3 separate regions of the Homo sapiens genome follow, and all the other regions are linked to region 2. The links come from fine-mapping of genetic effects on gene expression. A gene starts in region 2. Each other region holds a variant in brackets. All regions are shown on one strand. Distances are between the middles of the regions.

Region 1 (10,257 bases), 130 kb before region 2:
GTTGGCCATGGCAAGTCTCGAACTCCTGACCTCAGGAGATCCGCCTGCCTCGGCCTCCCAAAGTGCTGGGATTACAGGCATAAGTCGCCTTGCCTGGCCAGGTCTTCAGGTTTTATCCTGTCCTTTCCTCTTTTTCCATTTCCTTGCAATACCTTCCCATTTCTGCCTTTGCTCAACTTTGCTCCGCCTGGTGAACTTTAAAGCTCCAGTTAGAAAGCTCTCTGGAGGGGTATTTCAGCAGAAATTGTTTTCATAGGTGTAGTCTCCTACAACTATAATAGAAGTAGTCACACTGTGTCACTTATTATACTAAGTCCCTAATTCTGTCACCCTCAATTATGAACTTTTATGGAACAGGAGTTTTCTCTATTGCCAAGTACCCAATATCTGGCCCATAGTAGGCAATCACATCTGTTAATGGAATAAATAAGTGTGTCATTTTTATTCCTCAACTTTTTAACTTAGCACTGACTTTCTTTTTCTTTTTCTTTTTTTTTTTTTTAAATGGAGTTTCCCTCTTGTTGCCCAGGCTGGAGTGCAGTGGGGCAATCTCGGCTCACTGCAACCTTTGCTTCCTGGGTTCAAGCGATTCTCCTGCCTCAGCCTCCCGAGTAGCTGGGATTACAGGCATGCGCCCCCATGCCCAGCTAATTTTGTATTTTTAGTAGAGATGGGGTTTCTCCATGTTGGTCAGGCTGGCCTTGAACTCCTGACCTCAGGTGATCCATCCGCCTCGGCCTCCCAAAGTGCTGGGATCATAGGTGTGAGCCACCGCACCCGGCCTCTTTTATTTATTTATTTTTTTGACGGAGTTTCGCTCTTGTCACCCAGGCTGGAGTGCAGTGTGCAATTTCGGCTCACTGCAATCTCCGCCTCCCAGGTTAAAGCAGTTCTTCTGCCTCAGCCTCCCCAGTAGCTGGGATTACAGGCACCCAGTAGCTGGGATTACAGGAGCCCACCACCACTCCCGACTAATTGTGTGTGTGTGTGTGTGTGTGTGTGTGTGTGTGTGTGTGTGTGTGTGTGTGTGTGTTTGAGATGGAGTCTGGCTCTCTCACCCATGCTGGAGTACAGTGGCACGATCTCGGCTCACCACAACCTCTGCCTCCCGGGTTCAAGTGATTCTCCTGCCTCAGCCTCCAAGTAACTGAGATTTCAGGTGCATGTTAGCATGCCTGGCTAATTTTTGTGTTTTTAGTAGAGACGGGTTTTCACCATGTTGACTAGGCTGGTCTGGAACTCCTGATCTCATGATCCAGCCGCCTCAGCCTCCCAAAGTGCTGGGATTACAGACGTGAGCCTCAGCCTCCCAAAGTGCTGGGATTACAGGCGTGAGCCTCAGCCTCCCAAAGTGCTGGGATTACAGGCATGAGCCTGTAATTAGACTGCACCTGGCCTAATTTTTGTATTTTTAGTAGAGACGGAGTTTCCCCATATTGCCCAGGCTGGTCACAAACTCCTGATCTCAGGTGATCTGCTGGCCTCACCTCCCAAAGTGCTGGGATTAGAGGCGTGAGCCACTGTGCCTGGGTCAGCACTGATTTTCGTGTCTAAACTCAAAAAAAAAAAAAAAAAAAACCTCTGCTCCCACTATTTTTTCCTTTCTTCTATATAGAGAAGAGAACACTCAGTTTTACAAACCAAAAGAACCCTTTGGAATCTTTGTCACCCTCGTTTCAGTCATTGTTTGCTCAGAGAGCTTTCTTCAGTGCAGCAGCAATAAAGCCGTATATTCAAGATTTACAGCCAGCCTTTGCAATTCCCTTCGCCGACTGCTCAGGATTTAAGGAATGGTTCTTTCATTCTTTAGGTCTCTGTATTCCTTTAGTAAATGCTAAAGCATTTACTAAATGCAAAAGCTAATTATTTAAATTTAGTAAAAGTAGCATAACTTTTGAAAAAGGGGGGCTAGGGATCCCCCTAGGCTAGAAGAGTTTGATTTATTGTTACTTTTGGGTTGATGGCAGCCTTTTTGGTGAGGTCTGTGCTGGAAAGCTAACTTGTACCATTAGACCTCACTAAATGCTTTCCTAAGTGTGAGGAGGTGATACTTAAAAAGACTGGAACAATTTTATACCAAAACTGGGACATGGATGTGCCTTCTGCAGTTTGAATATAAAAGAAAGTCATTTTTGTTTTCTTTCCAAGGCCATGGAAATAGCATCTCAAAGGACCAAGGAAGAACGGTCTAGCCAAGATCATGTGGATGAAGAGGTAGGATTTATTATCTATTCACAGCCTTTGGAAACACTTGTGTTTTGAGGGTTTTTTTTTTTATGTTGCTAGAGCATAAACTTGATTTAAATAGATAAGCAGCTTTTTCAAATGATGGTAATATTTCCTTAAGATATATTATAGTAAATGATTTAAGTGAGCCAAGTTGGATAGTTTACATTTCACTGTATTGGTCCACTCAGCAACCTGTTAGCCCATTGTCCTAGATGGAGAAAATTTTTAAAGAGCCTGTTAGGATATAGGCGTCAAGAAGGAAAAGCCTGTTTTTAATTTGCAAATGTGAGTTTTTAAATGACTTAAATATTGATTCTAGAAATGTTATAGATTTTAAATATTATGCTTTGATAAAAACGAGTCAGGGTGTTTTTTTGTGAAGGAGCCATAGTAGGCTTTTAAAAAAAATTCTCACAACTCTTAATGGTTGACTATGAGGTGCCCTGTGTTTGTCGGCAGCTCTCCACCTTTTTCACTGTAGCAGCTGGGTATGTTTCGTAAGGCATAGCCAGGCAGCGCTTGCCAACTGTAATTCCGCCCCTTTCCCTCCTGCTCAGAAAAGCTTTTTGGAACAAAAATGAAGGAGAAGTGTTATTCTAAGGATAATCTTGAATCAGCTCTAATGTTTTTTTTCCCTTCCTTAAAATAAATCATATGCAAAATTTAGTGTTCTATCATTAGTAGTGTTACTTTTGGGACACCACATCACAGATGGGATACCAGTGTGTGCAGACAGCTTAGCCAAGCATCAGTGTTAGGGATGAATGAATATATAGATTCCCCTGTAACCTGATGGAGGAGTATGCTGTGTGAATGTGAGAAGTGTATGAATAACAGTTTTGATTTTGCTTTTCCTCTCTGTTAGGTGTTTAAGCGAGCATATATTCCTAGAACCTTGAATGAAGTGAAAAATTATGAGAGGGATATGGACATAATTATGAAATTGAAGGAAGAGGACATGGCCATGAATGCCCAACAAGATAATGTAAGTAGCTTGGTTTGTATATAGCAAGCAGCTCTTCAAAAGTAGTAGGGGACTGTCCCAAACCTATCTGGGCCTTTTAAGTTCCCCTAATCTTGAATATTGGCTTCTGAGCTAGTGAAATGACTAACTCTATCTGTGTTAACTTG[T/G]GTGCACATTGAACGCAAAGGGAATTATTTGGAATTTATGAGAGGAGGTAACACATTTGAATGAATCCAACAAGCTGTAATTGTAGAAACAAGATTCAGATAGAAGTCTAGGCTATTAATGGTTATTATATTAGGTCCATTAACATATATTTCTTTAACATACATCATTCAGGAACAATTTCTTTTTGGTGAAGGGTCAGATAGTAAATATTTTAGGCTTTGCAAGCCAAGAAACAAAATTGAGGTGATTACGTAGGTCCTTATGTAACAAGAGAGAAAAAAATTCACCCTCAATTTTTATTCGTGAAATTAGAAATACTTTAATAATAGTTGAATACACTTTTGTGTAATACAAGTATACTAAAGAAGAGTGGAATTATTTGATGTGGGGCAGATAATATTTCACTTAATTGGGGCTCAAAGTTTGTGTTTGCTATCTTCAAATTGATTGCAAATGTTTATCTGTAAAAACTACCAGGTAGGCTGGGCGCAGTGGCTCACACCTGTAATCCCAGCCCTTTGGGAGGCTAAGGTGGGCGGATCACTTGAGGTCAGGAGTTCGAGACCAACCTGGCCAACATGGTGAAACCCTGTCTCTACTAAAAATACAAAAATTAGCCAGGCATGGTGGCGTGCTCCTGTAATCCAAGCTACTGGGGAGGCTGAGGCACGAGAATCACTTGAACCCGGGAGGCGGAGGCTGCGGTGAGCTGAGATTGCGCCATTGGACTTTAGCCTAGGCTACAGAGCGGAACTCTGTCTCAAAAAAAAAAAAGGCCCAGTACGGAGGCTCACACCTGTAATCTCAGCACTTTGGGAGGCCGAGGTGGGTGGATCACCTGAAGTCAGGAGTTCGAGACCAGCCTGGCCAACATGGTGAAACCTCGTCTCTACTAAAAATATAAAAATTAGCTGGGCATCGTGGCAGCTGTAATCCCTGCTACTCAGGAGGCTGAGGCAGGAGAATCTCCTGAACCCCAGGTGGTGGAGGTTGCAGTGAGCCAAGATCGCGCCACTGCACTCCAGCCTAGGCCACAAAGCAAGACTCCGTCTCAAAAAAAAAAAAAAACAACTACCAGGTGGCTGGTTGGATTTGGCCAGTAGATCTGGTAGACAGAAATAATATCAATATTATAAACTTCCTGTGTTACAGTGAGATTAATTTTAGATACCTTTTTATAATCATAGGAGACATTATTTAACCCACATTGTTCTTAATAGTGCAATATGCATATTTCATTGTCTAGTTTTATGTTGATCCTTATTTTTTTTTTTTCATTTTGGTTATAAGATTCTATACCAGACTGTTACAGGATTGAAGAAAGATTTGTCAGGAGTTCAGAAGGTATGAAGAACATGTGTTACTGTTTGTTTATGTGAAAACAGTTTTAAAGGATATAAACTCTAGTCATACTGTTTTTTATTATTATTTAATATTATTAGAACTAAATGTTATTTTATATTGTTAAAATGTTATAATTGCTTTCAAAGTCTGTGGACATCTTCAGAAATGCCATTTTTGTGTTCTTTCTAAACACAGCACTGAAATTTGGAAATTAATTTATTTTTCTTTCTGTCTCTGAATTGTTCAGTGATTGCAGGTGAGGTATTTATCTTTTTGTATCCTGGTCGTCATTTGTGGAGCTCTTAATGATAGCCATTGTGCTTCTTGATGGTTTTACAACCAGCTTAGGAGAACTTTGGAATGTAGTCTCCTACCAGGGTATTACTTGTTAAAGAACAATCTCATGAGTTCAGCAAGTCCTGCTGTGCTGGATTCCTGTGATGTTCTTTTTTCTTAAAACAATCTTGTTTTGTTTTACATTTTAGAAGGGCAGGGATTAAGTAATTCTAACTTAGGCAGTCATAAAAGCAGTCTTTATTTTTTTAAATCTTCCTAATTGAAGACTTAAATAAAGGATCACAGTTTGCTTTCTTAAAATCATGTCTTTTCTGTGGAAAGAATTGAATTAGGGGAATTCTGGTATTTTGCATTTCTGAGTTATAATAACAGGTGTCATAAGGAAGTTATGCTTTGGATTCCAGAGCATGAAGATTTTATTGCAGCAAGCTAGAAAATCTTGTTGTACAATTGACTTCTAAAGATCTGTTTTTTTCTTATAAAAGGGAAACCTCACTCTTAAAAACTGCTAGGAAGCGCTGTATTAGACAACTGCTGAATTTCAGGAAGTAATGAAAATTTCTCTTCTTCACATATTGTTTTCCCTCCCAATTGGATTAGTTTATTGCTAGAAATGTGGTTCACAGGAAAACAGCTGTGAAGTTATCCATATAAATCTTCATTTTCTACCTCTATGTATATTTTGCCTCTTTCCCAATCCCAACTAAATGCTCCTGATTAGCTGAAAGAAGGAGAACAGCTCTGTTGTTGATCTAGGTCACGCAGTAAAGCCCTGGTTCCTTCATTTGAGTATGTTCTGGAGCCTTACTTGGAGTGGCTACTTTCATGTTTCCCTCCTGATGTTCATTCTGGTGTTTTGATGTTTCAGTACAGGATGTTAGTTTTTAACATATATTTGCGAGCCTAAAATCTGAATTCTGGCATTAACACATTTAACAACAACACATAACTTGGTTTGTGTGTTGTTTAGAATAACATGGTTCTTTAATAATTTCAAGGTCCCTGCACTCCTAGAAAATCAAGTGGAGGAAAGGACTTGTTCTGATTCAGAAGATATTGGAAGCTCTGAGTGCTCTGACACAGACTCTGAAGAGCAGGGAGACCATGCCCGCCCCAAGAAACACACCACGGACCCTGACATTGATAAAAAAGTAAGCAATGAAATACCTTCCCCTTTTCTTTAGTGTGGGAGCACAGCCGCTCTTATTTCTCTTTGCTCAAGGATCTAGCTAGATTATGATGGCTGAAAACATTATTGATAAGTACCTCTAATTACAGTTTTAATACCTAAGTGTGAACTTGACTTTTGGTGGTAACATTATCTTGAGATTGGGCTGCTCATCAGAGCACCTTGGGCATTGCCTAGAGAGAGCACGCACTAAATTCAGTACATTTCACATGAAGTACAAGTGATGTTAGAGTTGACCCAGGGTAAATACTGAAGAGCCATTTCAGGGGGATTTATAGCCCAGCTTGATGTTTCTGGAATCTGAAAGACCATATAATAGTCCCCCCATCCATGCTTTCAGTTTCTACTGTTTCAGTTCCCTGCAGTCAGCCTTGGTTTGCAAATATTAAATGGAAAATTCCAGAAGTAAACAATTTATAAGTTTTAAATTGCTCACCGTCCTAAGTAGTGTGATGAAATTCATGCTGTCCTCCTCCATCCTGCCTGGAATGTGAATCATCACGTGGTCCAGCGTCTTCACACTGTCGACACTCCCCACCCGTTAGTCACTTAGTAGCCTTCTTGGCTATCAGTTCAGCTGCTGTGATGTTGTGGTGCTTGTGTGCAAGTAACCCTTACTTTGCTTAATAATGACCGTAAATTACAGGAGTAGTGATGTTGGAATTTCAGGTATGCTTTAGAGAAGCCATAAAATGCTTCCTTTAAGTGGAAAGGTGACCATTCTTGACTTAACAAGGAACTCATGCCTGTAATCCTAGCACTTTGGGAGGCCAAGGAGGGCGGATCACTCCAGACCAGTCTGGGCAATAGAGTGATACCCCGTCTCTATTAAAACATTGGTGATGAGCACCTGTAGTCCCAAATACTTGGGAGGCTAAGGCAAGAGGATCCCTTGAGTCCAGAAGTTTGAGGTTCTAGTGAGCTGATCATGCCACTGCACGCCAGCCTGGGTGACAGAGTGAGATTCTGTCTCAAAAAAATAAATAAAAGGAAAAGAATCATATGCTGAAGTTGCTGGTGAGAATCTTTTATCCGTGACATTGTGGAGAAGGAAAAAGATGTTTGTGCTGGTTTTGCTGTCTCACCCCAAACTGCAAAACTTAGGACCATAGCATGTGATAACTGCTTAGTTAAGATGGAAAAGGCATGAAATTTGTGGGTGAAAGACGTAAACAAAAACATCTTCCAGTTGATGGCACCATGTTGCACCAGAAAGCACTGAGCCTATACGAAGGTTTCAAAGGTTTCAGCAAGGGTTCCCCTGAAATGAGTGCCACCAGGCCATTTACTGTAAGGAATAGTTACACAGATTCAGGAATAGGTTTGGACTAAAAAATAGAAAAATTACCAGAGAGGCTGCATCTGCCAATGAAGAAGCTACTGTCACATGAGTATGATACTGTGGGATATTTGGAGAGAGAGACCACATTCAAATAACTTTTACTATAGTATATTGTTACCATTCTGTTATTAGTTATTATCTCTTACTGTGCCTAATTTATAAATTAAACCTCATCATAGGTACGTATGTATAGGTAGAAGCATAGTATATATAGGGTTTGGCACTATCCACAGTCTTAAGCATCCACTGGGAGTCTTGGAACATATCCCCCATGGATAAGAAGGGACTCTTGTATTTCTTTAATCCCTAGCCATAGACATAGAGACACTGCTGACTGAGTGCTATGTGACTATTATTATTCCATCTTAGTCTAATCCTTTAAACCTTATACAATGTGGGTCCCAAGACTTCTGAGGGACATACTCAGCTGCTAGCATATTTTCTCATATGTCTACTAGAAACACATATTTTGTCTCTTTCCAATGTCTATTTCTGTTAGAATATGGAACTTGTAAAGAAAAGTATTTGCAAACATTTAATAACATTCTTAGGGATATTTCTGTTTGGCTGTCTTCACATTTCTATTAAGGAAGCTCAGCTGGGCGCGGTGGCTCACGCCTGTAATCCCATCACTTTGGGAGGCCAAGGCAGGTGGATCACGAGGTCAGGAGATCGAGACCATCCTGGCTAACATGGTGAAACCCTATCTCTACTAAAAATACAAAAAATTAGCCGGGCGTGGTGGCAGGCGCCTGTAGTCCCAGCTCCTTGGGAGGCTGAGGCAGGAGAATGGCGTGAACCCAGGAGGCGGAGCTTGCAGTGAGCCGAGATCACGCCACTGCATGCCAGCCTGGGCGACAGAGACTCCGTCTCAAAAAAAAAAAAAAAAAGAGGAAGCTCAAGGCCGGTTATGGTGGCTCATGCCTGTAGTCTCAGCTACTGGGGAGGTTGAGGCAAGAGGATTGCTTGAGCCCAGGAGCTTGAGGCTGCAGTGCACAATGGTCATGCCACTGCCCTCCTGCCTGGGTGACAGAGTGAGTCCCTGTCTCTAAAAAGAAAAAACTGAAAGACAGTTTTCACCCCAAGTTCCTCCACCAACCCATAATCATTTTCTTTTCTTTTCTTTACATTACACTCACTTTTATTCTTCTATGTGTGTATTTTATTTAGTTATAATCATAATAATACTCCAGGTGGGTGCAGTGGCTCATGCCTGTAATCTCAGCATTTTGGGAGATCAAGGTGGGTGGATCACTTGAGCCCAGGAGGTCGAGACCAGCCTGTGCAATCTGGCGAAGCCCCATCTCTACCAAAAAATACCCCAAAAAAACCTAGCCAGGTGTGGTGGTGCACACCTGTTGTCCCAGCTACCCAGGAGGCTGAGGTGGGAGGATTGCTTGAGCCCAGGAGGTGGAGGCTGAAGTGAACCATGGTCACGCCACTGACTCCAGCCTGGGCGACAGAGCAAGACCCTGTCTAAAAAACAAAAAACAAAAAACAAAAACAAAAAATGCATACTCCAAATGAATGAAAGTTGGCTTTTTTGTTTGTTTTTTACAGGAAAGAAAAAAGATGGTCAAGGAAGCCCAGAGAGAGAAAAGAAAAAACAAAATTCCTAAACATGTGAAAAAAAGAAAGGAGAAGACAGCCAAGACGAAAAAAGGCAAATAGAATGAGAACCATATTATGTACAGTCATTTTCCTCAGTTCCTTTTCTCGCCTGAACTCTTAAGCTGCATCTGGAAGATGGCTTATTGGTTTTAACCAGATTGTCATCGTGGCACTGTCTGTGAAGACGGATTCAAATGTTTTCATGTAACTATGTAAAAAGCTCTAAGCTCTAGAGTCTAGATCCAGTCACTGACTCTGTCTGGTGTTGACAGAGGATTTATTTAAGCTATTATTTTAATAAAGAACTTTGTACATTTTTATTTTTATATTTTTTTCTCTTACAAATATGTTTTTGGAAGCATGATAAATGTTTAAATGTAGTCAACATCTGTAACTCTTACATGAGTGTCCAGAGGCACTCATGGGAAAATTGGTTTTGCTTTCTTTGTACACACCAGAGACCCATCTGAGGTCATCTGATTATAAGGCCATGTTTATATAAAGGGAATTTCACCCACAGTTCAGCTGGCTGTTGATTTTCACTGCAACTCTGCCTTTGTGTGTATTGGCGATCATTTGTAATGCTCTTACACTTCGTCTTTAATGTTCTTTTTGGAGTTAGGACCTCTCAGTTCATAAAGTTTTTTACAATTCAATCATTTGGCATATTCATTCATTCATCAAAAATTTGAGTATTTTAGTTGCTGGGGATACAGCAGAAAACAAACTAGACAAAAATTACTACCTTTGAGTAGTTTACATTTTGATAGGAAGATAAGACATTAACCAAAGTAAGTAAAAAGCAGTGTATCAGCAGGTGATAAATTCTATGGAGAGAAATAATGCAGAGATGAGAGGGCGCCTATAGATGAAAGAGTTTGCAGTTTAAAATAGGGTTCTTGGAAAGGCCTTACTGAGGGCTGATATTTGAGCAAATACTTGAAGAAGGTGAATTGTTTGCATAACAAGAAGGAAGAACATGCCAGGCAGAACAACCAGCAGTTGCAAAGCCCTGAGGCAGGAGTGTACGTGACATCTTCCAGAAACAGGGCTGAGACATCATCATCAAGGGAGAAAGTAGTAGATGCAATCAGATAGTGTACGGCTGTGGGA
Region 2 (10,257 bases):
TTCTTCATTTTGACAATTTTAATTAGGAGAGACCAATCTTATTTTTGTGATAATTCAGATCCTAGATTCATTATTTCTGGAGGATTCTAATTTATTCAGACAAATGGAAGAGAAAAGAAAGAGTAAAATATACATATCCATTTTATTATTAAGATTTTAATTGTCTGACATTTTAACAGGCATTTTCTTTTCCTTCACATTATGGTTCCAATCCTAGCTTCTGCCTGTAATTTTGACTTATTAAAATACTACTCCTTGGCCGGGCACTGTGGTTCATGCCGGTAATCCCAGCACTTTGGGAGGCCAAGGTGGGTGGATTGCTCGAGCCCAGGAGTTCCAGATCAGCTTGGGCAACAAGGTGAAATCCTGTATCTACAAAAAATACAAAAATTAGTCCAGTGTGGTGGTGTGCGCCTATAGTCTCAGCTACTGGGGAGGCTGAGGCAGGAGGATGACTTGAGCTCAGAAGGCAGAGGTTGTAGTGAGCCAAGATCATGCCACTGCACTCCAGGCTGGGCGACAAGTGTGAGACTCTGTCTCAAACAAAACAAAACAAAACAAAAACCCCAGAACTACTCCTCTGTTAGGCAGAACAGTTATTTTAACTCATGGGCTATAAATCTTCTTGTGATGAAGAGGTATCATTTACCAACACAAAGATATAGAGAGTTCCCATGGGATTTTGAGCAAGTAAATGATTCTTCTTAATCTCACTGAAATCAAAGTGTCGTTTTCTTTTAAAAATCTGCTCTGAATATGACTGATTCGTCTTTCCTAACTGCAAGGTGATTTCTAAGGTCAGCCAGAGAGAAAGTTGCCTGTCAGTGATCTGTTTTATCAGTACAAGGGGAGCTATCTATGAGTGGCAGGGAAAAAATAGCTGACCTTAGGTCAGCCAGTGAAGACTCTGCCAGACTTTGGATTCTGATTTTTTAAACCAAGTTGTAAGAAAACAAGCTACTTTTAAACCTCTTTGCTGCGCTTTCAAAATTCTATAAATATACCTTCATTATAGCATACTTAATGTTGTATTGTAATTATTTGTTTTACTACTGCAGACTTTGATATCCTGCAGAAAAAGAGTCATGCTTTATTCATCTTCATGTGTCTAGCATTGAATCTGTTGTGTAACATGGTAGATGTTCAATAACTGCTTTCTAAATGAATGCATCTTAAATGTGTCCAAGAGGGAGGTTTACTGATTTACATGTGGGATAAAGACAGGAACATTAACGGTTAAAATTTCGCATCCAGCAAAGAACTTTTGGCTTAACAGGTGGTACCTTAAGCTTTATATGTTTCACAGTGTTCAAGAATGTTCACGTATTTTATCTCATTTGACCCTCACTGTGGATTTGGAAGGTTGGCAGAGCAAGTGTTATTTCCATTATACACATGAAGAAATTGAGCTCTTGCATAAGTAAATTGTAGCACTAAGATTATAACTATGGGCAAGTTATCCTCGCTCTTCACTGTGTGATGAGCCAACCTGGACAACTGATGTGTGTGTGTGTGTATGTGCATGTGTGTGGGTGTGTGTTGAGGTGGGGGGTGTTCCATCTGTCGGGCATGTCAATCTGTTTATTTTATCCTCTTATCTTTCTTTATCACCCTTAGAGAAAGATAAATGAAAGCCACTGTCTTCCTAGAGCAGGCATGTTTGGTAGCTGGAAGCCGTTCGTGTTCTTGGGGATGCCTGGAAAAGCCCAGGAAGCAGTAAGATGGGTGAGGAAGCAACGCAGCCAGAGGTGTGATTGGTGGCGTGGGCTCTTCGCCTCCTCCTCTGTTTTGCCTGCAGATTGAACAGTTTTGTGAGTCTGGGTGGTGTTTGGGTCTGTGTGGAGCCTGGTTCCTATGACCGTAAGGGGACCCTTGGCTAACAAGAGCTTTTGTTACCACTGGGGGGGTGGTTAATAGATATGTGGGTTTTTTTTAAAAGGATAATTCTACCGTGCAATTGTGTAGCCTCTTTATTACACATTAGGGAAGAATAATCCCTGAATTTTTTTTTTTTTTTTTTTTTTGAGACAGAGTCTTGCTCTGTTACCTGGGCTGCAGTGCAATGACACGATCTCTGCTCAATATAATCTCCACCTCCTGGATTCAAGTGATACTCGTGCCTTTGCCTCCCAAACAGCTAGGATTACAGGCGCCTGCCACCACACCCAGCTAATTTTTGTATTTTTAGTAGAGATGGGGTTTCATCATGTTGGCCAGGCTGGTCTCGAACTCCTGACCTCAAGTGATCCACCCGCCTCTGCCTCCCAAAGTGCTGGGATTACAGGCATGAGCCACCGCACGGGCCCCTGAATTTCTTAAATCAAAGTTTTACTATAATATATTTAAGGGCAGTGACTGGACCCTATTTATCTTTGTATGTTGCAGAGTATTTCCATATCCTAGGTTATAATTATTTGCTGAACAAATGAGATGCATAGAGGGAAAACATCCTAAATGAAATGTTGTACATTATGCACTGACATTTTCCCTCCATGCATGTCTTTCTCTCCTCCACCAATGGATATTATGGGCTGTTTGTGCAGAGGCTGACTTCCAGCCATTGATTCTGTTTGAGAAAAACCACCGTCTTGTCTATAGATCAGTGTTTGTACAGGTTGAGCATCCCTAATCTGAAAATCTGAAATCCAAAATGCTCCCAAATCCAAACTTTCTGAGCACTGACATGATGACCACAAGTGGCGAATTCCACACCTGACCTCATGTGATGACTTGCAGTCAAAGTGCAGTCAAAACTTTGTTTCATGCACAAAATTATCTAAAATATTGTATAAAATTACCTTCAGGCCATGTGTATAAGGCATATAGAAAACATAAATAAATTTCATGTTTAGGCTTGAGTTCCATCCCCAAAGATCTCTCGTTACGTCTATGCAACTATTGCAAAATCCAAGAAAATCCAGAATCCAAAATATTTCTGGTCCCAAGCATTTTGGATAAGGGGTACTCAATCTGTATAATCATTTAAACACTTGACCACTTTGGTTTTATTAAAGATTCGAGGAAATTGAGACTACGATGCAAATTATTGGTTGTGCTAACAGTGATAAACTTTTATCTCATTATATGTGTTTACTCCTTGAATTTAAGACGTTCAGCTGTAAAAAGAAAAAGAACAAGACATTTTGTCAAAAATTATGCCTAAAGGGTCAAGTTGTCATGAGAAGTGCTATAATACGACAAATTTTAGAAAGTCCCCCCCACTCCCTTTACAACATAAAAATGTAGTTTTTTATTTTTGTTTTCAGTTCATAAACATTTTGGAAACGCACTGTATCAGAAGGTAATTAGCGGCATTGTTTGGAAAGATGAAAAATTTATTAGAAAAGATCTTTAAATGGCTTTTACTAAAGCGTCATTTAACAATTTTTCATATTATAGAAACAGCTTTTCATGGATGGTGTGACTGGGTCTGTATCCAAACCCGGTTCGGTTCCTGGAGCCAACGGCGTAGTTAACACTCAGCCTCTTGCAGTTAACACTCAGCCTCTTAACTGGGAGTGGCCCTGGAGCAAGTCGCTGGAATGTTCAAGCTCCGCGTCACTCATCGGTACCAAGTTGATGATCTCTGCCTAGGGTTCTTCGCCACCCTCAGGCTCAAGTCCCAGGAGGCCTCCTCCGCTGACTTGGGTGAACAGCTCTGAGTTCCGGAGAGGGTTCGGTCTGCGGAGAAGCGCGCGAGAGACAAGCATCCTCAAGGTTCTGGTACAAAATTTGGAAAATGGACCTGGCGTTGAAATCTTTACTCCTCGTTTAAAAAGACCATCGAAAGGGAAAAAATAAAAGAAATTGCAGTTTATATTTTTGTTATCCCATGAAAAATTAGCTGCAGTGTTTTCCTCTTCATGCCAAAGAGATTAATATTTACGGTGAAGACTTTTCCAGGAAGTCGTGGTTTTCTGTAAAAAAAGGTTTTACACATCAGAAATCGGACTTCTGGGGCAATTTCCTGAATTCCTGGAATAAAACAAAACAAAAAAAAGCCCCCAAACAAAACTCTATCATCTAAAGCGTTCCCTCCTCACTGTGGTCCTAGTCAATGCGTGGTAGGTAGCGTTTCCAGTGATCAACAAAAGTAAATATTTGACCAGTAAGTCTCCAATCGAGAGGCCCCTCCATTCCAGCTATTTCCGCCCGGGGACCGAGGAAATCCTCAAAAGCCGGGCCACGCATTCCCAGCCCGAGAGGCCCCAGCGCAGAGCGCAGCAGCCCCCGCGAGCGCAGGTCCTCCCCGCGGTGGCTTCGCCCAGGGCGCTTGGGTCTCGGGGACCCCGCCCCCGCCCCGCCCGGTGTTACTCAGGCCTCGGTGGCGCAGGGCGGAGTCGCGGGCGGCGGGCGCAGGTGGGGAGGGGCGGCCGGAGCGCGTCGGTGACACCCGCGGGGGGGCGGGGAAGGCGCGGCGGCCGCACCCCACCCTGGGAAGAAACCGGCCAGGTGTGGCCTAGGCGCCCAGTGCCAGCGGGGAGGAGACTCGCTCCGCCGCCGACCAACACCAACACCCAGCTCCGACGCAGCTCCTCTGCGCCCTTGCCGCCCTCCGAGCCACAGCTTTCCTCCCGCTCCTGCCCCCGGCCCGTCGCCGTCTCCGCGCTCGCAGCGGCCTCGGGAGGGCCCAGGTAGCGAGCAGCGACCTCGCGAGCCTTCCGCACTCCCGCCCGGTTCCCCGGCCGTCCGCCTATCCTTGGCCCCCTCCGCTTTCTCCGCGCCGGCCCGCCTCGCTTATGCCTCGGCGCTGAGCCGCTCTCCCGATTGCCCGCCGACATGAGCTGCAACGGAGGCTCCCACCCGCGGATCAACACTCTGGGCCGCATGATCCGCGCCGAGTCTGGCCCGGACCTGCGCTACGAGGTGACCAGCGGCGGCGGGGGCACCAGCAGGATGTACTATTCTCGGCGCGGCGTGATCACCGACCAGAACTCGGACGGCTACTGGTGGGTACCTGCCCGGAGAGCGCGGGCTGCGGGGCTCGCGGGACAGGGAGGGACCGTCCTCCTCTGGACGACTGGGAGACTCGGGTCCCGAAGGTGGAAAGGTTTTTTTGCCCCAGGTCCCGAAAGAACTTCCCGGCCGCGCTGGGAGCAGGACCGGGTGTCCTGACGCGTGCGGGGACAGGTTGGCCCCTGTCCTGCGAACAGGGACTCGGTCGTACCTTTCTCCCCTCCCGCGAGCCCGGGCGGGTGGTCAGAGGGGGCGTCGGGCCCGCGCGGGGCTGTCCCCTGCCTGCTGGACACGGCTGCAGCCGCCTTTGTCCCAGCCCGCGAATGGGAGGTCAGGCGAGGTGGGGCTGCGACCACAAAACCCAACCTCTCCAACCGTAATCAAAGTAAAAGAGGAAAGGAGCGGGGCCCCGGTCCTGTCTGGTGGCCGAGTGGTGCTCGGGGCTCCGCAGTCTCTACCGGCTCACCCCCAATCCCCAGTAACCCCGAGACCACGACTGCAACGACTCCTGGACTCCTCGGCCACCCAAGGACGTTTGTATCAAGGCTGCGCGTCCCGGCGGCGCGGGGTCCTGTCCCGAGGAGGCGCTTCGGCTTCCCCTGTCCGGGAAACGAAACTTCCCCGCCGGGGCGGCTGCCGGGCCCGGGTCTCGAAGTTCGGCCGGGACGTGCCTGTTACCTTCGGTCGTCCGCGCCGCAGCCCCCGCGGGCGAGCGCACCTGGGGCCCTGCCTCTGAGCCTTTTGTTTCCTCCTTTTTAAAAACACCGGATGAAAGACCCCAGTGTGCCTTGGATCGCAGAGCGCCGGCCGCATGTCTGCTTTGATCCAGAATGTGTGGGCAGGGGAGTGGGGGGGTGGGAGAGGACGACGCTGGGGGCCCGCCCTGGCCTAGGCGCCCCGGGAAGACCCCCCGGTGAGAGGGTCAGCTTCTCCGGATCCCAGCGGAAACAGACCGAGGGCGTCATTTGGGTGGGTGGGGAAGAGATCCTGTCCCTGCTTTGACCGGGTCTCGGGAGCTGGACTCTAGATGCCCACGTGAGCCGTGCGCGTTTTGCAGCCCGCCCCACCTCCCCGCCCCCTGCTAGTTGTTCCCACGTCGGGCTTTTGGGAAAGAGGCCCTGAGCGCCGGGACGTTATTTACCAGGCGTTGTGGCCCTAGGCCTGGGAGGAGCAACCTGAATGCGCTCCAGGGAGTTTTGTTTTGCAAGCAGTTTTGAAGGCAGGGACTACTCGAGTTGCAACCTGTTTTCTGCTTAGATTCATTTATTTATTTATGGGGCATCCTGAAAATCTATTTTCGCTTTTTTTTTTTTTTTTTTTTTTGAGTTAGCAAAGAATTGTCTCAATCTTGGAGTTCTTTGTTTCCTGAACAAAATGTGTCTGGGGATTTCCAGGGAAAATGTGCCAAGCAATAGAAGGAATGAAAACTTGGGTTTTCATTACATTTGTTTTAAAATTTTGCCAGCCATTTAAATCTGAAATTTAAATTTTCTCCCGCAGTCCTCCAGGATTTGAGATGCACATCCTTTAAATGTGTGGGTTACACACAGTTTAAATCCAAGTCAGAATAGAATGCGAAGGACTCTTTAGTAGCTCTTTTTGGCGTTTTCATGAACCAAGTATTTATTTTGATTATTATTTATAACTATGCTTTTGCTAGCTTGGATTTCTTATCTTTTAAATAGACAATAATCAGTACTATTAATCGAATATTTCACTCCCTTGGCTTCTTATACCTTTTGTAGGGGAGTAAAACTTTAATAAATTAAGTGGTTAATGAACTGCATCAAGGTACATGTTTTATTAGGATTCCCCATTGAAACATTTAATTTTGGGCAGGCTCCATGTTTTTTCCTTGTGTAGTATCATCCCGTGCTCTGTTTTTCCAACTTAAAGCCTACTTACAAACTTGTCAAGTCTCACATCTCTCTGGGAAGGGGAAAGAGACCCAAGTGAAAAATTACCTGACTTTGAGGAAGGATGTTTTTTCTTCTCATTAATGTTGCTCTGCCCGGCAGCAGGGCGTCAAGCTCAGGGCTTGAGTCGGGAGGCGGTCATTCTTTCCGGGGATCCTGGCAATGGAGGTTCCTCTCGAGCCTGACCCAGCCTGCAGTGGTGCTACTGACTACAAAATAGCCCACAAATGCTGACTTCTGCGTTTTCAAATAATAGCGACCGCCTGAAGGCAGGGCATGTCGCAGTTTTTCTGGTGGCATTCTGGTTTTGTGTGGAGGGATATGTTTGGCTGTGGCGTGCACTTTGTAGAAGCAGGGTGCCCTCTGTGCCCAAGGGAGCCACTGCTCTCTGCTAAGTGAATGATGATTAAGAATTTCATAAGTATTTTTCTGACCCGAAGGTTTTCTAAATAAAGGTTTTTGTGGTTTTCTTTTCTTTCTTTCTTTTTTTTTTTTTAGCATGAAAACTAGTATAAAAACTATTGGTTGACTTTAAACTCATTTATTTCAAAAACTGCTACTTTATGGCTGAATTATTAATAGATTGGTGATTTTTGAGATGAGTGTTTTGTATCTAGCCCTTCCCTGAATAAAGAAATTTGAATGTGTGGAGGGCCCAACTCTTAGTTTTCCTTTGAAAATGACTTTAAAACATCTCTCTCTCTCTCTGTCCTTTCCACGAACAGCACTTACCCGTTTTTAGGACAGTATTAGATCTCATTGTATCCTAATTCCCTCTTTTTCCCCCGACCACCTGCCTGTTCTTTGTGTCTTTGTTTTAGATTGAATGGAATCTGCAACTACTTAATTTTGTTAACATTTGGTAAATGTTACAACCTTGATAATGAAATAATAGACATGTACATGTTTTGAAATGTAAATTTTGGATTCTTCTTGGATAGGACATTATATTAATACTGTTTTCAATTACAGCAGAATTACTCTAGTCTTATTCCTGTCATTAAAACAAATTATAAATAGTGAAATTTGTTACCAAAGTAACAAAGTCTCACAGTTAGATCTTTCTTTCACCCATCAAAGGGTGAATTTGTGGGAGGATTAAAAGCAGAAAATAGTCATTAAGTTTCAGAAATATGTGGTTATAATATTAATGCTTATTTTTCTTCAGATCTCATGATTTCAAAACTGAGATACGTGTGATCATTATTTCATATACATTTTAAAGTTAGTCTTAAATTAGGTTTTAAGAGAAGCTTATTTCTTACTATGAGACAAACAGGTCAATTTGCCTGAATTTTAGAGCGGGGGGACCCCTAAGGATCACTTAGCCTAGGCAGAAACCCCACACGCACACTTCAGAGACAGGAAGCTGAGGACGTGCCGAAGATCCTAGAATCCACTTAGGGCTGGGTTGGCCTGAGGACCCAAGGATCCTCACCTTGGTTTTCCCTGTGCCTTCACAGCCTGACTTTTAGAATGGACAGGCCTGTAATTACACCATGCAAGTATCTCAAATTCCATTAATTCCTTAATTCAGCAAGTATTTACCGAGCATTGACTGCATTCTGTGTTAAGTGTCAGGGGAGATCAAGGTGGAAATCTATAGCCTTGAAAGGAGTGTAGGCCCTTCCAAGGAAGATAAGTACACGAAGACTAGCACGCAAAAGCGGAATGCACAGGAGGGGTGTACGTGACTTCAGAGACTTCACAAGGAGGTGAGAGAACATCTGTCGTGGGGGCACTGGGAAGACTTTATAAAGGAAGTGGTGTCGAACTAGACTTTGGAGTATTTCAGCTGTGTCAGGATGGGTGGGCAGAGAGCCTTCCAGAGGGAGAGAAGAGCATGAGAAAAGTCTGCGAAGCCTGTGGAGTGATCTCCTTTTAGAGCATTCTCTCTGAGCAGGGAGGCAGTAAGATGAAAGGAAGAAGCATCCTTTTTTGACCAAGGCATTGGAGACCTTGAATGCCCCGGAGAGGGATTTGGATAGGCAGAGGGAAGCTGGTGCAGGTTTTCACTGAAGCCATTGAAAGTCTCCTCCATTGGAGGAGCAGGGAAGTGAGACGATCATAACTGAGCTTCTGGACTGTTTAGGCGTTGGCTTAAGGAAGCCATTGCACCAGTGAAGGAGGGAGGGAATGAAAGTCTGAACCAGGGTGAGGGCAGTGGATGGAAAAGTAGGTATTGCCAAGGTGGAGTGACAGCTTCAGCTAAGAATTGGATGCGAGAGACAAGGGAGAGTCTGAGAAAACAGGCCCAGAGCTCGAGTGACTCATAGCGTAGATAGTCTAAACACTTTTCTGGGAAATTATTGCAAAGCAAGATTTAGTTTAGCTTAATATACGGCAGGTAACATTTACATGGTTATTAAATTTAACTTGTATATTTTATAAAAATATCAGGTCTGTGGTTAATAATAGTTACCATTACCCAGCAAATACCTGTGATGTGCCTTGTATAGGATGTTTGTTATCTCAAGCCTCATAACAAACTTCCCAGTTTACAGATGGGAAGCTGAGGTTAAAATATTTAAATGGCTTGCCTAAGGTCACACAGCTAGTTAAGTTGTTAAGCTAGATTTGAATCCAGTATACCACAATGACGCAAGAGAAGATTAAACCTGCAGTGTGAGAATTCACCTTTTCTACTTGTAAACCCTTTTCTATCTGAGTTATTACTTATTTTTAATCTGTTGAATTCCTCAGTCTGCGTTCCTGTGAAATATTTCATAATCATTGTATTCTTTCATTAATACTCTTGTAGAGTTTCTATCTGCTTAGGAAAAAAGAAACTCAATTTGATTCTGCATTAAGCCAACTAATTGTTAGTCAGATCTATTTAATGGGACAATACAGCTTTCAACAGTCATTTTTTTCTCTAAATATGGGCATAATTTCATTGTTCAGGTAATGGAAGTGTCTTGGAAAGGGAAAAACTGCTGATGCCCCTGATGCCTCAGTGCTGACTTCTTAGGGTGGAGCAAAGGAGGGCTTGGGTGTGAGACTTGGAGAGTGTGTCTTGACTCTCAGCTAACCAGTCTTTCCAGACCAGGAGGTTCTAGAAGGAGTGGTTTCAGTCTGGAGGCCTTGTTGCTGCAGCTGGGAGCAGTGCCTCACCCCTTGATTTTCTCCATCTCCCTCCCGCTGGGCTGGTCCCAGTGGCCCTGCCGCTTGAAAACGTTCAGATGTGGTTCTGATTTTGAAGTCACGGCCCCACAGATCCTAAGACTCAGACATGAGCTGCTCATTTGAGGTGACATCTTGTAAAATACTAGTGCAGTCCAATAATTTATGGCTCACCACCGACACCTTGGGCTGGAAGGGCTCATGAATGTGAAATCTACATTTCATGAAAATGAAGACAGTTTAGTGAGAAGCTGCAGCAAAC
Region 3 (10,257 bases), 82 kb before region 2:
TGGAGCATTTCATTAAGTCTTTAATAGCTTTATCCTACAAGACCTTCTGATATGTTCCCAATTTTTTCTATAAAGAAGACTACCATCCACTAATTTTTTTCTGATTCCCTCCTGCTCTTGAAATCAAGCATCTAAGTATCTCACCAGACTTGGCCTAAGGCATAATTCCAGGGTTGGTGGTTTGGATACCAGCCTCACTGATGGCTCTGTTTGTCCCCCCACCTTCAGCACTGTCAGCGTTAGCACCTCCTCCTCCCGTTTTCCCTCCCTCTTCTCTCTCAGCATGAGAAAGAAACTGGTCCCTGTGGGGTCTGCATATTGTTTGATACTCTTTTCTTTAATAGGTGGAGCTTAATTCCCCTTGTGTTTGGCTTGGACTTGGTGACTGACTGCCAATGAGTAGAGTATGCAGAAGTGAGGATGTGTGGCTTCCCAGACCAGGTCACAAAGGCATTGGAGCTTCCTCGCTCTCTCAAACCACTTGTTCTGGGGTAAGTCAGCTGCCACGTTGTGAGGACACTCAAGCAGCCTTATGAGGAGATTCACATGTGAGGAACTGAGGCCTCCTGCCTGTAGCCATACCACTGAGCCATCTCGGAAGTAGGTCCTCCAGCCCTAGCCAGGCTTTCAGATGACAGCAGCCCTGGTTGATTCTTGACTGCAACCTCATGAATGACCCTGAGCCAGAACTGCTTAGACAAGCCATTCCCAACTTCCTGATCCACAGGAATCGTGTGAGCTAAAAAGTGTTTATTGTTGTTTCAAGCTGTTTGGTTTTGGGGTAATTGTTATACAGCAATAGAACAACACAGTATCTGTAGAAATTACAGCTGGGATGAATCTCAATCACTCAAAGCCCTTGTGCCTCTGGCATCGCCCACGGTTGGGTGCAAATGTGCCTGGAGTATAGCAGTACCCCAAATCTCTTCTTTCGGGCTGGGCGTGGTGGCTCATGCCTGTAATCCCAGCACCTTGGGAGGCCAAGGCAGGCGGATCACCTGAGGTCAGAAGTTGGAGGCTAGCCTGGCCAACATGGCAAAACCCCGTCTCTACTAAAAATACAAAAATTAGCTGGGCGTGGTGGCGGGTGCCTGTAATCCCAGCTGCGCAGCAGGCTGAGGCAGGAGAATCGCTTGAACCGGGAAGTGGAGGTTGCAGTGAGCCAGGATCGCGCCATTGCACTCCAGCCTGGGCGACAAGAGCAAAATTCTGTCTCAAAAAACATTTTTTTAAAAAATTATTTTCTTTTTTTTTTTTTTGGTGGCAGGGTCTCGCTCTGTCACCCAGGCTGGATGACAGGCTCACTGTAGCCTCCCTTGACCTCCCAGGCTCAAGTAATCCCCCCACCTCAGCCTCCCGAGTAGCTGGCACTACAGGCGTGCACAACCACACCTGGCTAATTTTTGTGTTTTTTGTAGAGACAAGGTTTTGCTATGTTCCCCAGGCTGGTCTCCAATTCCTGACCTCAAGGAGTCCGTCCTCCTTGACTTCCCAAAGTGCTGGGATTATAAGTATGAGCCACTGCATCCAACCACTCTTAATTTTGAGAGGTGACAGTGTGCTGGCAGTCCTCACAGCCCTCGCTCGCTCTCGGGGCCTCGGCCTTGGCGCCCATTCTGGCCGTGCTTGAGGAGCCCTTCGGCCCACCGCTGCACTGTGGGAGCCCCTTTCTGGGCTGGCCAAGGCCAGAGCCAGCTCCCTCAACTTGCGGGGAAGTGTGGAGGGAGAGGCGCGGGCGGGAACCGGGGCTGCGCGGCGCTTGCGGGCCAGCGCGAGTTCTGGGTGGGCGTGAGCTCGGCGGGCCCCTCACTCAGAGCGGCCGGCTGGCCCCGCCGGCCCGGGGCAGTGAGGGGCTTAGCACCTGGGCCAGCAGCTGCTGTGCTCAATTTCTCGCTGGGCCTTAGCTGCCTCCCCGCGGGGCAGGGCTCGGAACCTGCAGCCCGCCATGCCTGAGCCTCCCCCCACCCCGCCGTGGACTCCTGCGCCGCTGGAGCCTGCCCTATGAGCGTCGCTCCCTGTTCCACAGTGCCCAGTCCCATTGACCGCCCAAAGGCTGAGAAGTGCGGGCACACGGCGCGGGACTGGCAGGCAACTCCCCCTGCGGCCCGGGTGCGGGATGCGCCAGGTGAAGGCAGCTGGGCTCCTGAGTCTGGTGGGGACTTGGAGAATCTTTACGTCTAGCTAGGGAATTGTAAATACACCAATCAGCACCCTGTCTAGCTCAGGGTTTGTGGATGCACCAATCGGCACTCTGTACCTAGCTAATCTGGTGGGGGCCTGAAGAATCTTTATGTCTAGCTAAGGGATTGTGAATACACCAATCGGCACTCTGTATCTAGCTCAAGGTTTGTAAATGCACCAATCAGCACTCTGTGTCTAGCTGATCTGGTGGTGACTTGGAGAACCTTTATGTCTAGCTAAGGGATTGTGAATGCACCAATTGGCACTCTGTATCTAGTTCAAGGTTTGGCAATGCACCAATCAGCGCTCTGTGTCTAGCTGATCTGGTGGGGACTTGGAGAATCTTTGTGTCTAGCTAAGGGATTGTGAATGCACCAATCGGCACTGTATCCAGCTCAAGGTTTGGAAATACACCAATTGACATTCTGTACTAGCTAATCTAGTGGGGACATGGAGAACTTTTGTGTCTAGCTCAGGGATTGTAAACGCACCAATCAGCACCCTGTCAAAATGGACCAATCGGCTCTCTGTAAAATGGACCAATCAGCAGGATGTGGGTGGGGCCAGATAAGAGAAGAAAAGCAGGCGCCCAAACCAGTAGTTGCGACCCTTTTGAGTTACTTTGCCGATAATGGAAGGGGTGTGTTTTGTGATGTCTTGCTGCAGGTTGGTGTATATGTTTCTATTACCTTTGTGAGCTATAACGCTCACTGTGAAAGTCTGTAGCTTCACTTTTGAAGCCAGCGAGACTACGAAACCACCAGGAAGAACGAACGACTCTGGCTACACTATATTAACAGCTGTAACACGGATAAGGTCTTTAGCTTTGTTCCTGCGTGTTTTGCCAGAAGGAGGAAGCTGAGCACATCCATCCATCAGAAGGAATAAATTCCAGATATACCACTTTTAAGAACTGTAAGAGTCACCGTGAGGGTCTGTGGTCTTGTTCTTCAAGGCAGTGAGACCAAGAACCTGCTAATTCCAGACCCAATTTTAAAGGTCTGATAAGCCTACTTGAGTAGTAGTGATAAAAATGGGAGCCAAGTGCTGGTTAGAAGAGGGAGGTTCCATGCTTAGTAAGGCCCCAGCCTCAATCCTGGGTGGCTGTTTCTAAATGAGGACAGGCATTCCTGTTATGTCTAAAAGGTGTTTTTTGGCTTGCCACACCCCCTATCCTGTACCTATATAAATCCTAAATGCCAGGCTCCTGAAGCAGGTAAGGAGATAAGCAAATGGCAGCATGGCACGGCAGAGCAAAGAGAAAGTGCATGTAAATGCTGAGAGGAGTTAGGCTGGGGATGGTCAGAGAAGAGATTGGCTGTTGGGCGGCAAAATTCCACAGGAAGATCATCTTTCCGTCCTGTCCTTCCACCTCTCAATCCATCCAGCTGAGCCACCTCCACCACTCAATGAGACGGTTGCATTCATTCTTCAAGTCCATGTGTGACCTGATTCTTATGGTACACTGGACAAGAGCTTGGGATACGGAAAGCTGTCACACTGGCTCTCTGCCTTTGCAAAAAAGCAGAGGATCCACTGAACTGGTTAACACCTATGCCATCCATCTACAGATGGCAATGCTGAAAGGGCACTGTAGGGCTCTGCATGGTGGCTCATGCCTGTAATCCCAGCACCTTGGGAGGCCAAGGCAGGTGGATAACCTGAGGTCAGGAGTTTGAAACCAGCCTGACCAACATGGTGAAGCCACATCTCTACTAAAAATACAAAATTGGCTGGGTGTGGTGGCAGGCGTCTGTAATCCCAGCTACTTGGGAGGCTGAGGCAGGAGAATTGCTTGAATCTGGGAGGCAGAGGTTGCAGTGAGCTGAGATGACGCCATTGCACTCCAACCTCGGCAACGAAAGTGAAACCCTGTCTCAAAAAAAAAATCAGTCTTTCTAAGAAAGGGAGGTCAGGGGTCTATCATCAGGTGCCTGGAACAGTCAGATCAGTTGTCAACCTTGAGTTTTTCCAGACGAACTCAAGGGGGGCTGGATTTTCCCAGAGCTCAGGCTGTAGGCTGCTAGAAGCCATGTCAGAGTTTGGTCAAAGCTCTCAAGAGACAGATTTAGATGAAGTTTTTCAGGCCGAGAGTTTTTGCGGTTCTCAGAAGACAGTGGCATTGAGTACATTCACACTGCCGTACAACCATCAAAACCCTCCATTGCCAGAACTTTTTCATCTTCCAAAAATGTGTACCCATTAAACAATAGCTCCCCATTCCT[C/T]CTCCCCTTAGCCCCTGACAACACCAATTCTTTCTGTCTCTATGAATCTACTCTAGGAACCTCATATAAGTAGAATCATACAGTACTTGTCCTTTTGTGATTGATTTATTTCACTGAGCATAATGTTCTCCAAGATTCATCCATGTTGTAGACTATAAGAATTTCCTGCTGGGGGCAGTGGCTCACGCCTGTAATCCCAGCACTTTGGGAGGCCGAGGTGGGCAGATTATGAAGTCAGGAGATCGAGACCATCTTGGCCAACATGGTGAAACCCCTTTTCTACTAAAAATACAAAAATTAGCTGGGCATGGTGGTGTGTGCCTGTAATCCCAGCTATGCAGGAGGTGAGGCAGGAGAATCGCTTGAACCAGGGAGTCGGAGGTTGCAGTGAGCCAAGATTGTGCCACTGTACTCCAGCCTGGGTGACAGAGCGAGACTCCGTCTCAAAAAAAAAAAAAAAATTTCCTTCCTTTTATAGTCTGAAACATCTCAGTATTACATTTTGAATACGGTACTGTCTATGTGTAACACTTGGCTTGTTTTCATCTTTTGGCTACTGTGAGGAATGCTGCTGTGAACATCAGTGGACAAATATCTCTTCAAGACTCTGCTTTTAATTTTTTTTTTTTTTTTTTTTTTGAGACAGGGTCTTGCTCTGTCGCCCAGGCTGGAGTGCAGTCGTGTGATCATGGGCTCAAGTGATCCTCCCACCTCAGCCTCCTGAGTAGCTAGGACCACAGGGGCACACTGCCATGCTCAGCTAATTTTTCTTATTTTGTAGGGATGGGGTCTCACTATGTTGCCGAGGCCGGTTTCCAACTCTTGGCTTCAAGCGATCCTCCTGCCTTGGCCTCCCAGAGTGCTAGGGTTAAGGCATGAGCCACTGCCTTGGGCCTGCTTTCAATTCTTTTGCTTATTTACATTTGCATCGTTAAGGCTGATCATCTATTAGCTCCTAAAATCTTGTCGAATTAGTTTCTTGGAAACAGCAATGGTCACGGCCGCTTGGCTGAGGCCCACCTTGGAGATGAGATCTTGGGAGGGCCAGGTGAAGATGAGGGGCCTTCAAACAAGGAGGCAGTGCCATGGGGATCGCAAAGCTGGCTGCACTGCTGGTGAACTGGGGCTCCTTGGCATAGGCTTGGGAGCTGTGGTTCGGCCCAGGCAGCAGCACGTTGACTCTCCTGCTGGCTTTGAAAGCCTTTGCAGTTGCTGTCAGCCTCTGCCTAGCATGCTCCTCCTCCAGCTCCTTCCCCACCTTTAGCTCTCAGATCTCATATCTTCTCCTCAAAGAGGCATTCCCCAAACACCTTAGACTCAGCATTTCCGTGGCCAAGTGATTCTCTAGCCTATCACCTGTTTAGAACCATTACAGCCTTAGCCTATATTGCAACAATTTCTTTTGTTTACTTATTTATTCTCTGATCTTCAATGTTAAAAGGTAAACTGAAGCACACTAAAATATTAAAAAGTTTATTTGGGCCAGGTGTGGTGGCTCACGCCTATAATCCCAGCACTTTGGGAGGCCGAGGCAAGTGGATCATGAGGTCAAGAGATCAAGACCATCCTGGCCAACATGGTGAAACCCCGTCTCTACTAAAAATACAAAAATTAGCTGGGCGCGGTGGCGGGTGCCCATAATCCCAGCTACTCGGGAGGCTGAGGCAGGAGAATTGCTTGAACCCAGGAGGCAAAGGCTGTAGTGAGCCAAGATTGTGCCACTGCACTTCTGCCTGGCGACAGAGCGAGACTCCGTCTCAAAAAAAGAAAAAAAAAAAAGTTTATTTGGCAAACGGTAATTCATGAATCTGGCAGTTCAAAGACCACAGGTAATTTGGGGCTTCCCTCAAAGAGGTACTAGGGGAAGGCTTTTACAGGGTGAACACGGAAGCAAAACAAATAAATTCATTTCTGTGTAAAATCTTGTTAGAGGTTAGTTGGCAGTTTGTGATGCCTAGAATATGACCATTTACAGGGAGTTGGGTTTCAGTTTGCTAGGTAGGAACCCAAGGTGCTGGAGTCTTCTCAGCCTAATGACCTCCCAGTGAATTATTTTGGCATCAACCATGCTGTAAGCACCGTGAGGGTGTGGGTCTTACCTGCCTGCATCCAAGCAGTGCTTGGCACATAGTACATTGTATACAAATTGTGGAATGACTATGATGATTTTGTGCGCATGAAGAATGTCGGCACCTCTAGTTATAGTCTAAACAGCACTGGGGAGGAGGCTGTGACCCCAGGACCCTGGTCACCTAAACCTCCCTGACCCAGGAAGTAGGCTTAGGAAAGATCTCTGGCACAAGCAGTTGGAGAAGGTCCTGGCAGGTGAGTAGAATGCAGACAATCATGATCTGAAGAGGGCTTGTGGAGGTCCAGGCACAGGAAACAACCACACTCAATCCTGGGATTGAGTTCAGGTACAAGACTCCATTCATTAGAAGAACCCCTGAGAACAGACAGGCTCAGCTAAGAGCAACGGGCCTGACATCGGAGTTACTTGACTAGGGCTGGACCCAAGGAATGCTGTCAGGAGAGGCTGATTAGTGGACCCAGGAATGGAGGCTTGAGTGTGACTAGCCACTCTGTGGCTAATGAGCTCTGTGTTTGCCAATGGGCTCATGGCTGTGAGGGCAATGCTGTGATTCAGCCAGCATTGGTCTAGATCCTGAGGTGGGGGTAAATAGTCTCAGCATTATGACTATGGGGCAATGGGAACCAGAAACCAGGCAGGCCATCCGAGCAAGCGTGGTACATTTAAAAATGATGTTTTACGGGACGTAAAAAGCACAGACCATCAAGGAAGGGTAGAAAAAGTAAATGTGTTAATATTATTTTATTTTATTTATTTATTTTTGTTAAAAGACAGCATAAACAAGGCTGAGGAGGATCACTTGAGCCCAGGAAGCAGAGGTTGCAGTAAGCTGTGATCACACCACTGCACCCCAGCCTGGGCGACAGAGTGAGACCCTATTTCAGAAGAAAGAAAGAAAAAAAAAAGCAGAAACTCAAACAGATACTGTATGCCAATTTTTATAGCAGCATTATTCCCAATAGTCAAAGGGTGGAAGCTGCCCACATGTCTGTCTATTAATAGATAAATGGATAAACAAAATGTTCTATACGTGTACAATAGATTTAATATTCAGCTTTGGGGCTGGGCACGGTGGCCCACACCTGTAATCCCAGCACTTTGGGAGGACGAGCCGGAGGAACGCTTGAGCCCAGGAGTTTGAGACCAGCCTGGGCAATATAGGGAGGCCCCTCTCTACAAAAAAATAAATTAATTAGGCCGGGTGCAGTGGCTCACGCCTGTAATCTCAGCACTTTGGGAGGCCAAGGCAGGTGGATCACTTGAGGTCAGAAGTTTGAGACCAGCCTGGCTAACACAGTGAAATCCCGTCTCTACTAAAAATACAAAAACTAGCCAGGAGTGGTGGCAGGTACCTGTAATCCCAGCTACTCGGGAGGCTGAGACAAGAGAATCATTTGAACCTGGGAGGCAGAGGTTGTAGTGAGCTGAGATCATGCCACTGCACTCCAGCCCAGGTGATAGAGTGGGATTCCATCTCAAAAAAAAAATTATCCAGGTGTGTTGGTGCACACCTGTATTCCCAGCTACTTGGGAGACGGAGGCAGGAAGACTGCTTGGACCGGGGCAGATCAAGGCTGCAGTAAGCTATGATCACACCACTGCACTCCAGCTTGGGCAACAGAGAGACTCTGTTTCTAAAAAAATAAAATAAAAATAAAATTATTCAGCCTTAAAAAGAAATGAGCTGGGGGGAAGGGAGAATGGGGAGTTATTATTTAATGTTAACAGTTTCAGTTTTGCAACATGAAAAGGAGTTCTGTGGATAGCTAGTGGTGATGGTAGCATCACAATGCGAATGTACTTAATGCCCCTGAAATGTACATTTCAAAATGATTAAGACATAAATTTTATGTGATGTATATTTTGCCACAACTTTTTTAAAAAGCAAGGAAATTCTGACACAGGCTACGACATGGATGAACCTTGAGGAAATTATGCTTAGTGAAAAAGGCCAGACACAAAAGGACAAATATTGTCATTCCACTTAGATCAGGTCCTTACAGTAGTCAAACTCATAGAGACAGAAAGTAGAATGATGGTTGCCAGGGGACTGGGGAGGAGAGAAAGGGGAGTTAGTGTTTAATGGGGACAGTTTCCGCTTGTGAAGAAGAAAAAATTCGGGAGATGGGTGGTAGTGTTGGTTGCACAAAATTGTGAATGTACATAATGCCGCTGAACTGTGCAGTTAAAAATAGTTAAGGCCGGGTGCGGTGGCTCACGCCTGTAACCCCAGCACTTTGGGAGGCTGAGGCGGGTGGAAAATCAGGAGTTCAAGACCAGCTTGGCCAACATGGTGAAACTCCACCTCTACTAAAAAAACAAAAATTAGCCAGGTGTGCTGGTGTGGGCCTGTAGTCCCAGCTACTCAGGAGGTTGAGGCACGAGAATCGCTTGAACGTAGGAGGCAGAGGTTGCAGTGAGCCAAGATGGTGCCACTGCAGTCCAGCCTGGGTGACAGAGTGAGTTTCAAAAAAAAAGTTTAGATGGTAAATTTTATGTATATATATTTTACCACAATATTTTAAAAAAGACAACACAAACAATGGGAAAAGACAAGCTATGGACTAGGAGAAGACATCTGTTTGGTTTTTATATCTATATTCATTGATTTATCCTGTCTGGAAACAAAGTTTCTGGATCAGAAAACAGACCAATTATTTGCTCGAATAGCAGTCTGATTGCCAACTCCCCATCCCTCAGTTTCCCACAGGGCAGCACAGTGTGACCCAGATGTACCCTGCAGATACAGGCCTCTGTGCCACAGGCAAGAGCTTGGAAATGATGCATCTCAGAGCACAGCCAGATGCTGCTGGCATGTCTGGGCCTCTCACTCACTCTGGAGGCGGAGGGAAAGACCTTTGATCTCCAAGGCAAACACAAATCCATTCCGGAGAAAGGAGAGGAAGGTCTCTGGGGTTTTACAATCCTTTGGAATGCAAGCAAATGGTTCTGGGGAAAAGGAGGCATTCGTTATCTTTTTAGCATGTCACTCTCTGTTTCTCAGAAAGGTCCAGAAGTTTCAGGAACACTGAGAACTCCAGGGAGGATGGCGTTCCAACAAGAACTACAACATATATAACCAAAAAGGATTAATATATGATTAATTAGCTAATTCCTACAAATAAGGATAAGGTAAGCAATCCTATCAAAAATTGGATAAAAGAATGTAAATTGGCAGTTTATAGAAGAGGAGGCTGGGTGCGGTGGCTCATGCCTGGAATCCCAGCACTTTGGGAGGCTGAGGCAGGTGGATCACCTGAGGTAAGGAGTTCGAGACCAGCTTGGCCAACATGGCGAAATCCTGCTTCTACTAAAAATACAAAAAGTAGCCCAGTGTGGTGGTGTGGGCCTGTAGTCCCAGCTACTCGGGAGGCTGAGGTGGGAGGATCACTTTAGCCTGGGAGGCAAAGGTTGCAGTGAACTGAGATTGTGCCTCCAGCCTGGGTGACAGAGTAAGACCCTGTCTCCACAAAAAAAAAAAAAATTCCAAATGGCCAATAAACATTTGAAAACATTGCTGGACTTAGCTAGCAATTAGGGAAATGGAAATTTAAATTAAAATAGGTACCAATAAAATGCTGAAATATTTCCCAATATTTACAAAAAGGTGTGTGATGTGTTACATTTCAGGTTATAGGAATTTGTGAAGAAAATGAAAATATAATTCTACTTATATAAAAAGTCCAGAATAGGCAAATCTATAGCCATAGGAAGTGGATCAGTGGTTGCCTAAGGCAGGGGAGACTTCAGGAGAGGAGA

The links. PIP is the estimated chance that this variant, and not a neighbour inherited with it, causes the effect.
Region 1: its variant is the best candidate, but not a certain one, in a credible set for the expression of DSP in esophagus muscle (GTEx, PIP 0.50).
Region 3: its variant is the best candidate, but not a certain one, in a credible set for the expression of DSP in whole blood (TOPMed, PIP 0.77).

What each region holds. Positions count from the first base shown.
Region 1 is chr6:7,408,238-7,418,494 of GRCh38, forward strand. RIOK1 (RIO kinase 1) reads left to right here. Exons shown (of 17, transcript NM_031480.3): 13 at 2,149-2,214; 14 at 3,095-3,214; 15 at 4,652-4,705; 16 at 6,001-6,153; 17 at 9,094-9,800. The coding sequence ends at 9,204. Among named protein-coding and RNA genes, the nearest start is that of RIOK1, 24 kb to the left of the region's middle. RefSeq lists an enhancer at 4,656-5,426. The variant T/G (reference allele first, on the strand shown) is at 3,361.
Region 2 is chr6:7,537,137-7,547,393 of GRCh38, forward strand. DSP (desmoplakin) reads left to right here and starts at 4,535. Exons shown (of 24, transcript NM_004415.4): 1 at 4,535-4,949. The coding sequence starts at 4,780. DSP-AS1 (DSP antisense RNA 1) reads right to left here and starts at 5,947. Exons shown (of 2, transcript NR_183331.1): 1 at 5,910-5,947; 2 at 3,315-3,917. RefSeq lists an enhancer at 1-2,523.
Region 3 is chr6:7,454,640-7,464,896 of GRCh38, forward strand. No RefSeq gene overlaps it. Among named protein-coding and RNA genes, the nearest start is that of RIOK1, 70 kb to the left of the region's middle. RefSeq lists enhancers at 1,319-1,938, 9,270-10,257. The variant C/T (reference allele first, on the strand shown) is at 4,407.